Regions from separate parts of the Homo sapiens genome. Here region 2 is linked to region 1. Evidence: fine-mapped expression QTL. A gene starts in region 1. The other region holds a variant in brackets. All regions are shown on one strand. Distances are between the middles of the regions.

Evidence for each region. PIP is the estimated chance that this variant, and not a neighbour inherited with it, causes the effect.
Region 2: its variant is the best candidate, but not a certain one, in a credible set for the expression of PHKA2 in whole blood (TOPMed, PIP 0.71).

Annotation. Positions count from the first base shown.
Region 1 is chrX:18,982,235-18,987,609 of GRCh38, forward strand. It overlaps PHKA2 (phosphorylase kinase regulatory subunit alpha 2), which reads right to left and starts at 1,880. Exons shown (of 33, transcript NM_000292.3): 1 at 1,621-1,880. The coding sequence starts at 1,698. LOC101928415 (a long non-coding RNA gene) reads left to right here and starts at 5,353. Exons shown (of 4, transcript XR_001755808.2): 1 at 5,353-5,375. RefSeq lists enhancers at 1,682-2,182, 2,183-2,683, 2,665-2,714 and a silencer at 1,875-2,564.
Region 2 is chrX:18,842,043-18,847,420 of GRCh38, forward strand. No RefSeq gene overlaps it. Among named protein-coding and RNA genes, the nearest start is that of PHKA2-AS1, 46 kb to the right of the region's middle. The variant G/T (reference allele first, on the strand shown) is at 2,613.

The DNA of each region.
Region 1 (5,375 bases):
TCCTTCATGTGCAATCTCAAAAGCCAGTAAGCTCTGAAAATTTAAAGTGTTTTCGTAAGTTTGCAGCAAGCTCTTTTGGTGGCAAAAGATGAGCCGAACTAATATGAAACTCTTTTCAGCCTTTACTGAAATTATGTGAATATTCATATTCTGATGTGGAAGTAATAACCTGTTTGATGAAGGGGTGCTGCCCAGATCTGGCTGCAGTTATTATGGTATATATAGTACGTTGTACGCATATTACCTTTCTAAAAGCCAAACATTTCTGATGGGCAAACCACAACTGGTCCAAAGGGTTTCAGATAATGGACTCTGAGGCCAGGTGCAGTGGCTCATGCCTGTAATCCCAGCACTTTTGGGAGGCCGTGGTGAGAGGATGACTTGAAGTCAGGAGGTCGAGACCAGCCTGGCCAACGCAGTGAAACCCCGTCACTACTAAAAATGCAAAAATTAGCTGGGTGTGGTGGCGCACGCCTGTAGTCCCAGCTACTCGGGAGGCTGAGGCAGGATAATCGCTTGAACCCGAGAGGCAGAGGTTTCAGTGAGCCGAGATCGCGCCACTGCACTCCAGCCTAGGAGACAGAGTGAGACCCTGTCTCAAAAACAAACAAACAACAACAAAGAAAACAGATTAAGGGACTTTGGACCTATACCTTATGCATAAATGTTACTGCACTACGATCATTTATTCTTGTAACCCCAGCACTTTGTAGAGTGCTTTGCATATAACAGATACACCACAAATATTTCCTAAGTGAGGAAACAAGGCTAAGAAATTAGTTAAGAAGGGAAAATGGTCAGTGCCTTGGAAATGACCATGGCTCCCAACTTGCAGGTCAGGCCTCTAACCCCTGAATGCCACTTCCTTCGTTGACTTTGAAGGCCCTATAAATAGTTGCTGTTGATTGAGGGCAAGAAACATAGCTGCTGTCTTCACTAGGAATAAAAATAGTTCAGTGGTCTTACACTGATGGACCCACACATAATTTTAGCCCAGGAATACAAAGCATAGCAGGCAAATTCATACCTCGGACCACATGGGCAGTGTCATAGGACCCTGTGAGCTTGGGAGCCTTTGGGTCTGACCTGCTACATGCAGTGACCTTTCTAGCCTCACAATTTTCTTATCTGTAAAATAGCAACCAAAGTAGCCCCTAAGGGCTTCCCAGGTGGGTCTCTACCAAGACAGCTCATGGGAGGGACGGTAGCTGTCGCCCCACACTGCAGAGTCCTGCGTAAACTTCAGGAGCTTCTTCACTCCTGTCTACTGTTCTCATTCAGTGTAGTCTGTCCAAACCCCCCACACCTCTTCTCGTCCAAAAAAAGCAGAGTCAATGCAAAAAGAGGCAGTTTGGACCCGGGCACGGAGGCGGCTCATTCTCATCCTGAACAATGGCCAAAGAATTCTGTGAAAAGTAGCCGTAGCAACAGTTAGGTCCCCTGAATCTTAAGGAGCACGGGGTGGCAATGGGGTGGTAATCACTGGCTAGCAAGGACTAGATTCAAATAGCAAACTCTTAATTGCAAGGTCTCAGGTCACAAGAGGGCCAGACCTGGGAAGGAGAATGAGTTACATGAGAGGGTAGTTCCACGCGTTCCCTGGGGGCGGTCCCTCCTTACCTGGTAACACAGGATGGTTTGCTGCACCAGCCGCGCGTACCCGTCCAAGCGGACCCCGGAATTGCTCCTGCTCCGCATCTCCCCGAGGCTCCCAGGCCGCAGCGCCCGATCTGCCGCGTGGGCGCGGGACGTCGGGGCTGTGGCCTCCAAGCGGGTCTGGTTCCCGGACACTCACAGCCTTAGTCGGTTCTTGGGATGGGACCGGGCCGGAGGAGGTCGAGACTTTTCTAAACGCTAGCCCCAAAGTCCGGTTGGAAAGCAAGCCAACCAGAGCTCCGCGCGGCGGGGAGGCGCGGGGGCGGGGACGGGGGCTGGAGCGACGAAGGTCCCGCCTCGGCCAGGCCTGCTGGGCTCCCGACGCTCGCGGGAGCAGCGGGAAACCAGGTTCCGGGAGTGGGGCGAGGACGCCCCTGCCAAGCCCCTTTTACGTCCCGGCGGTCGCGAGGAGGTCCCCCGGGCGCGAAGAAGACGCCAGCCCACCCCAGCCGCCGGGGAGATCGCCCAGGCCGCGCTCAGCCCCGCCCCTGGCTCTGCCCCCGCCGCGGAGCGGAACCCTCCAAGTCGCGGCCTGAGGAGGAAGGAAAAGGGGGCGGCCCGGGAGAGCCGCTGCGAAATCAGCAACGGGCGGGAACCAGGTTGCCTCCCTGAGTCCCTTCTCTCCCCGGCCGGCTGCCAACCACAGCCAAGGCCAGAGAAACAGGCCCTTCTGCCGCGGCCACCTGGGCGCCTTGGACCCGCCCTCCGGACTCGCCCCCGCCCCTGCCGCGGAGTGGAACGTTTGGAACCCTGAGGGGCACAGGTAAGGGGGCGGCCCCGCCCCGCGCCCTGGAACGACCTCACGGCCCCGCCCACATCCCCGCCCCTGGCCCCACCTCCGCCGCAGAGCGGAACCCTCAGAGTCGCGGCCTCGGGGGGGACGAAAAAGGAGGCGGCCCGTGGGAGTCTAGGGGAACCCGGCTTCGGGCGGCGGACGAGTTGGCTTTCCTGCGTGGTAGTGTGGAGCCCCCCGAGACGGGTGCCAGTCCCACTCGAGGCCGGAGAAAGAGGGCCGCCTACCGCGGCCGCCTGGGCACCCCTCTGAGGGCCAAGATTGTAGTCCCACCTCTGGCCCCGTCTCCGCCGCCTAGCGGAACTGGAGTAGCGGGACCCAGCCCGGAAGAAAAAGGGGGAAGGCCCGGAGAGGTGCCCCAGCGACACCTCTGGCGCCTGTGACCCCGCCCCTAGCCACTTGGGCGCCGCTTCCTCGGGCAGGTTCGCAGTTCATCTCCCACGGGTCTACAGCTTGAAACTTGGCATTCATTATAATGTTTCGTGGCTGCTGATAACCTACAGTTCACAATCTTCGGCCTGGTATTCATTGTCCACCAAAATCTGGCCCACATAGGAATTTACTGGACAGCTAGACTAATGCAATCAATTTCCGCAAGCTCTTTTCCAGTCTCCATGCATTTACTCTATGCTTGACCCCTTCGGCCCTTCTTCCTCCTCCTTGACTAACTGAAGCCTATCTTTCCCTTAACGGCCAGCTCAGCTCCTCTATTAGCCTTCCCCATTTTCTGAATTTCTGTAGCCATTGGTTTAGTAAGAGCTTAGGACTTAGAGTCAGTTCATTTTGAGTTCAAATGTCAGTTCTGTCATTTACAAGTCGTATGACCTTTGGCATCCCGTTTTACATGTTTGAACTTAAGTGTTCTCATCTGTAAAATGGAGATAATCATAGCACCTACCTCACAGGATGACTTAAGATCAAGAGGATGAATATAAAGCATTTAGCACAAGCCTGGCTAGTAGAAAAATACTTAATAAATCATAGCTAATTTCGTTGTCACTTGGCCACAATGTATTGCCTCCTGTTGTTATTTATGTTTTCATGTGTGGATGAGGCATATTTTCCTAATTGGAATGTACGTTATTCATTGAAACAGTCTTTTGGTATCTCCTACTATGCCTGGTACAGTGTTGAGCATATAGTTGGAGCTCAATTAATGTTGCTCGCATGAGTAAATGAAATCAGTCCTGCTTAGCTGCGTTCCCTTATGTTTGGTCCTTAACCAAGTTTATATTAGATATTCCAGAACATAAATCTATGGCTTTACTCTGTCACTCAACTAAAGCACCAAACCCCACATCAGCTCACATATTACTTCATATAATACTTTGTTTTCTTAATATTGGCTTTTGAATTATGCAGTGATCCATGTGATGTGCCTCCATGAAGAATTTGCTGTGGTCTAGGGGTGAATAAAACTAGACATTGTTATCACCACTAAATGTTTTGGAATCTGAATATGTACTCTTGCTAGAATTTTCATGTATTCATCTCCATCTAAAAGCTGGGATCATTGCTTCTTTTCATTGTGGCTTTTGTTTCCATTGGGTCCTTCCTTAGGAGTTGATTTTGCAGCCATATGGGAAATAACTGATGATCTTTGCTCCTTATCTGGCATTTCCACCTAGTATAGAAACATTTTCAGTTTCCTGACTTCATTCTTCGCTAATTCTGCTGTGCACATTTGCACCCCTTTTGGTGTATAGGCAATCTACATTCTTCGGCTTTGGTCTATGCGATTGCATAGCAATATATAAGCTATGTTCTTCAATAAGCTCAAAATTCTGGGATAAAACCAAGAAGGAAGGCTACTCCGTTTTAGCTTTTAAATTTTTAAAGCAAATTTTAGTGATTCATTTTGGACCAGAAAGCTGTACTATATAATAAATCAGTCTCACATTTTAGTATCCTCATATCCCTGAGGTGCAAAACCTCCATATCTTGGTCCCCATATCCATGAAGCCATTCTCTGGTTATCACCAATAGAAACTTGTCTCCAAGTCATTTCTCAAATATTTGTCAAGAATCAGATATAGTATAATGATAGGGAATGTTATTGTTTCTGAAGCTGATTCATGATCTCCATAAAAATGAAGACCCAGAACTGGACCCTGGGGTAGCACCATGTATGATTTTTCTGACCCCAGCCAGAGGATCTGCCATCATCCTGCCACAGAGACTTCAGCCCAGGTAGTTTCCAGAGAGCCCCATGTTAACATCCAAGGTGGAAACCAATAAATGTTTCTCTTGTAGGGTTCAGGTCTTTGGCTCTAAAGAAAATCACTCCATCTTTGACCCAGAAGGTCAATTCTGAATGAATTTGCTGAAAATGACCAATTCACCAAATTTAGTTATTTCTATGATAATTTAGTTGACTGGAAATCATTTTTTCGTTACATTTTAAAGAATGTTGAATTTGTCTCTGCTCCAGCTTCCTGTAGCTCGTTTGAGGCTAAGAGATAAAGAGAGGAAACACCAGGGAACATAAGATTTCTTCACAGTGAGGAATATATTTATTAAATATATTTAAAAGAATATATTCTAAAAGAACATATATTCCATTTTTGCCTGCTCTGACTTCTTGATGCTGTACCTGGAGACTAACATGAAAAGAAAGCAGTATATACTGGCCAGGCGCAGTGGCTCACACCTGTAATCCCAGCACTTTGGAAGGCTGAGGCTGGTGGATCACTTGAGGTCAGGAGTTCAAGACCAGCCTGGCCAATATGGTGAAACCCTATCTCTACAAAAAATACAAAAATTAGCTGGGCATGGTGGCAGGTGCCTGTAATCTCAGCTACTCGAGAGGCTGAGGCAGGAGAATTGCTTGAACCCAGGAAGTGGAGAGTGCAGTGAGCCAAGATTGCACCATTGCACTCCAGCCTGGGTGATAGAGCGAGACTCTGTCTCAAAAAAAAAAAAAAAA
Region 2 (5,378 bases), 140 kb before region 1:
AAACAGACCAGACTAAAAATCAAAGTGGAGTCACTCATGCTGAAGTGCCACATCACCAAACCAAAAATGAGTTGTTAGCTGGCCTTCCAAAAAATCAGGATAGTGAAACAGCCTCATTTCCCAAATGGGCCAATTTCCACCCAAGTGATAATGAAGTTCCCTCTGCCTTTAATCCTTAAAACAAAAAGTAATCTGAAACTGGCCGGGCACGGTGGCTCATGCCTGTAATCCCAGCATTTTGGGAGGCCGAGGCCGGTGGATCACTTGAGGTCAGGAGTTTGAGACCAGCCTGGGCAACACATGGTGAAACCCCATCTCTACTAAAAATACAAAGTTAGCCAGGCATGGTGGCAGGCACTGTAATCCCAGCTACTCAGGAGGCTGAGGCAGGAGAATCACTTGAACCCAGGAGGCGGAGGTTGCAGTGAGCTGAGTTCATGCCACTGTACTCCAGCCTGGGCAAAACTCCGTCCCCCCGCCAAACAAAAAAACAGGAAAAAAAAAAGTAAGGAAAAGAAAATGTAATCTGAAGTAACCTGGTGTTAACCAATCAATTCCAATCAGTTATTTGTCTAGTGTTCTGTTTCTCTGTTTCTACCTTACAAGGAAAGTAACTTGGAGGAGACCAATCTGCTTTCACTCTTTGGTTCCGCTTTGCTTTCTTCAGCTTTTCTCTGTCCATACCAACCTCCTCTGCTCAACTCATTGGAACACTTACTCTAATTTTATGGAATGAAGTGTTGCCTGATTCTAGAATCACAAAGCCAAGTAAGATCTTTAAATTGTAATGTTGCCGTGAGCCACCACGCCCGGCCCCATGGACTATTTTCTATGGAAAAATATAACTCAAGAACAAAAGGAGTGTCTGAAGAGACATATAACCATTAAAGAAAGTGATGGCTTTGTAATTGTGTCAGTTTGGCTAGGCTGAACTACCTTTCTCAGAATTCCCTCTCTTGTATGTTTCTGGTTAGGGTGGGCCAGGAGATTTGGGAGGTAAAAGGAAAGGAGTTGCTATTTTGCAGCTTACACATGCTGTGGCTGATCTGCAGATTCACCTCATTGGTGTGAAACAGTAGCTAGGCCTGCAATTGCTCTACCTACCCCTGGATCCTATCAGCTTCTCTGATTTCTGGGCTGTGTACATGTGTTTAGCTCCATGACCGAAAGCCTTGGCTTCTGCAGGGCAACTCGATGACCAAGGTCAGAGATGGTAAGAAAGGACACAGGCTTCAGTTCATTTTTGTGGGGTGCCAGCTTGTGCTTGTGGGTTTTAGCCTGCTCGTGATCTTCCTTCCTGACTACCTGCCCTGTAGACTTTGAGCTCCAGCATCAGATATGGAGACCACATCTGGTTTCTACTGGTTATCTACCTATAAATCATCAATCACCTATCTGCCTACCTACCTATCTGTATCTTCTTCTGGTTCTGCCTCTGGTTGAACCCAGACTGACACAGAATTTGGTACTGAGAGTAGTTCCAGAAGAACAGAATCTTAAAGATAAGTGCTCTGAATTGGTTCTGGGTTTTCTGAAATTGGTTCCCTACTCTGATTTGATTTAAAGGTACGAGTAGCCCTGTTTCCAGTGCTAAAGAGGTACTTGTACTCCACAGTGTGAAGTGGCAAAATAGTTACTCAAATTATCACCTTCAGATACTTGCGATCAAGTACCTATAGAAGGCAAACCTCTAGGAGAACAAGTATTTGCTACTTTTAACATTTTAGTCAAAAGGATGAGTATAATAGGGTTGGTTGGTTGGTTGTTTACTGAAGAACTTGGGTAAAGAAAGTGATCAGCTCAAGGTCTACATAAAGGACCTGAATGTTTCTAAAACTACCAGGAAAGAAACTCTTATCTCCTATAGCCACAAGGCTTAGATTTCTGAAAGCCAAACCCGAAGTCTAATCCTGTGAATGCTTGAATGACAATACAAATTGAACTCCCAACCTCTTAGGGTATGTTGCTGAAAGGACAATGATTGGGAAGGAATGGCAGCCTGAAAATTGGAATGGAGACCGGTTAGAAATGCTTGTTCCCCGGTGCCGTAAACAACCAGCACTTGAACATAAATTTAATTTCCTCAGCAAGGCCATTTTTTCACTTTCTGCAGAAAGGGTACACTCGCCAGCAATTTTGCTGTAAGAGTACACCGAACAGAGGAGACAGGGTCATTTAACCTGACGTGTCCACCCTACTGCTGTGTCTGGTTTCCATTGGCTGGAATGGGACCTCAAATTCTGTATTTGTCCTGACTGGCTAGCAACTTAAACTTTTTTGTGTGTGTGTTTTTTTTTTTGTTTTTGAGACGGAGTCTCGCTCTGTAACCCAGGCTGGAGTGCAGTGGCACAATCTTGGCTTACCCCAGTCTCCGCCTCCTGGGTTCAAGTGATTCTCCTGCCTCAGCCTCCCGAGTAGCTGGGACTACAGGCGCATGCCACCATACGTGGCTAATTTTTTTGTATTTTTAGTAGAGACAGGGTTTCACTGTGTTAGCCAGAATGGTCTCAATCTCCTGACCTTGTGATCTGCCCGCCTCAGCCTCCCAAAGTGCTGGGATTACAGGCGCGAGCCACAACGCCCGGCCTGCAACTTAGAACTTTCTAAAAGAG[G/T]GAAAGGCAGAGGAGAACAAAGGAAGGAGGAAGTAACTTGTGGAATGCTGAGAAAGGTAAAAACACCTTCAAATAAGGAAGAGGAACAGGATATGACCTAATGCTTGCTTGGGCCAGTATAAGCATGCCAGGGCAAATATTTAGGCTAAATTGTGGAAGCTAAGAACATAAAGTACATTGATTTCTTTATTACGGCTAGCAGATATTTAAGAATGTTAGCACAGGTCTTTGAATAAATTTTGCTTCTAAGAGAAGTTACTATTTATTCCTAATTAGATGGGGAGGAAAGTCTTTGAAGAGGAACCTCTAGTTTACTGTTTCCAGGACCCACCAGCAGATTTTGATTCTTATTTTCCTTTCCTGGAGAAGCAGCCCTGCCATCCCTGCCTGAGGAGGGTACTTTTCCCCTTTTGGGGCCTGGAGGACCTGTAATGGCCTCCCCTGAATTAGTTGCCTTACAAGGCACTACTGATCCTTCTCAAGTCCTACCCCCACCACCTCTCTCTATTTGGATGTGCTTCTATGAGCCTATATGGAAGATCAGAAGTGCTCGAAGGACTCAAGAGCATTGAAATGGTAAATGTGTGAGTAAAATCTAAATGAATAATAACCTCTTATAAGAGTTAAAATAAGAGTAAAATTACAGAGACTAAATGATAACAATAGTTAGTACATAAGTTGATGAGAGAATAAATGGAGTTAAAGGGTTCTAAGGTCTTTTTATTGTCTAAAAACACGGTCAAAGCAACAATTAACATTAGATTGTGATGTCAAGAATGCATGTTGTAATCTCTAGAATAACTGGTTTAAAAAAATAGTAAAGGTATATAATTTCCAATCTATAGAGAGATGGAATAATAACAATTTTAAAAAGAAGTCAAAAGGGAAAAAGAATATAGAAGAGATAAGCCAAACAGTAATATGGTAGATTTAAATCCAAATATTCAGTATAAATTGATTAATTATCCCTGTCACGGAAACTATCACCTTTGATGGTTTAGGACCACTTCCAACTAAACAAACTCAGGCCTCTGGAGGAAGGCCTAGTCATCCCAATTAAATTCATCATAAAGTAGCCAGCCCCAGCTAACCCACCAGCCAACTGAAGATGCATGAATGAGTTCAGCTGAGATTACCTGAACCCATCCAGGCCAGAAGAACTGCACAGTTGAAGCTAGCCCAAATTGCTGATGTACAAAGTTATGGTCTTATGAACCCCCAAAATTTGAGACAGGTCTCAGTTAATTTAGAAAGTTTATTTTGCCGAGATTGAGGGCACGTGCCCATGACACACCCCCAGGAGGTCCTGATGACATGTGCCCAAGGTGGTCAGAGCACAGCTTGGTTTTACACATTTTAGGGAGACATGAGACATCGATCAACACATGTAAGATGAATATTGGTTTGGTCCAGAAAGGGGACAACTCGAAGAGAGGAGGGGGCTTCTACATCACAGGTAGGCTAGAGACAAACGATTGCATTCTTTTGAGTTTCTGATCAGCCTTTCCAAAGGAGGCAATCACATATGCATTTATTTCAGTGAGCAGAGGGATGACTTTGAATAGAATGGGAGGCACGTTTTCCCTAAGCAGTTCCTAGCTTAGTGATTTTGGGGACCCAAGATACTTCCCTTTCACAGTCCAAATAAGTGATTGCTGGGTTTTTTGTTGTTGTTGTTAGTTTGTTTGTTTTGAGATGGAGTTTCGCTCTTGTTGCCTAGGCTGTAGTACAATGGCGTGATCTTGGCTCACCACAACCTCCGCCCCCCCAGTTCAAGCGATTCTCCTGCCTCAGCCTCCCGAGTAGCTGGGACTACAGGCATGCGCCACCACGCCTGAAGGGGTGGCCTGCCCCTCCGCACCTGTGGGCGTTTCTCGTCGGGTGGGGCGAGAGACTGAGAAAAGAAAGAGACACAGAGACAAAGTATAGAGAAAGAAAAGTGGGCCCAGGGGACCGGTGCTCAGCATACGGAGGACCCGCACAGGCACCAGTCTCTGAGTTCCCTCAGTATTTATTGATCATTATCTCTACCATCTCGGAGAGGGGGATGTGGCAGGACAATAGGGTAATAGTGGGGAGAGGGTCAGCAGGAAAACATGTGAACAAATGTCTCTGTGTCATAAACAAAGTTAGAAAATGTGCTGTGCTTTGATGTGCACATACATAAACATATCTGGTGCATTAAAGAGCGGTATTGCCGCCAGCATGTCTCACCTCCAGCCTTAAGGCGGTTTTCTCCTGTCTCAGTAGATGGAACATACAATCGGGTTTTACACCGAGACATTCCATTGCCCAGGGACGAGCAGGAGACAGATGCCTTCCTCTTATCTCAACTGCAAAGAGGCCTTCCTCTTTTACTAATCCTTCTCAGCACAGACCCTTTACGGGTGTCAGGCTGGTGGACGGTCAGGTCTTTCCCTTCCCACGAGGCCATATTTCAGACTATCACATGGGGAGAAACCTTGGACAATACCTGGCTTTCCTAGGCAGAGGTCCCTGCGGCCTTCCGCAGTGTTTGTGTCCCTGGGTACTTGAGAGTAGGGAGTGGTGGTGACTTTTAACAAGCGTGCTGCCTTCAAGCATTTGTTTAACAAAGCACATCCTGCATAGCCCTAAATCCATTAAACCTTAAGTCGACACAGCACATGTTTCTGCGAGCACAGGGTTGGGGGTAGGGTTACAGATTAACAGCATCTCAAGTCAGAAGAATTTTTCTTAGTACAGAACAAAATGGAGTCTCTTATGTCTATTTCTTTCTACATATGC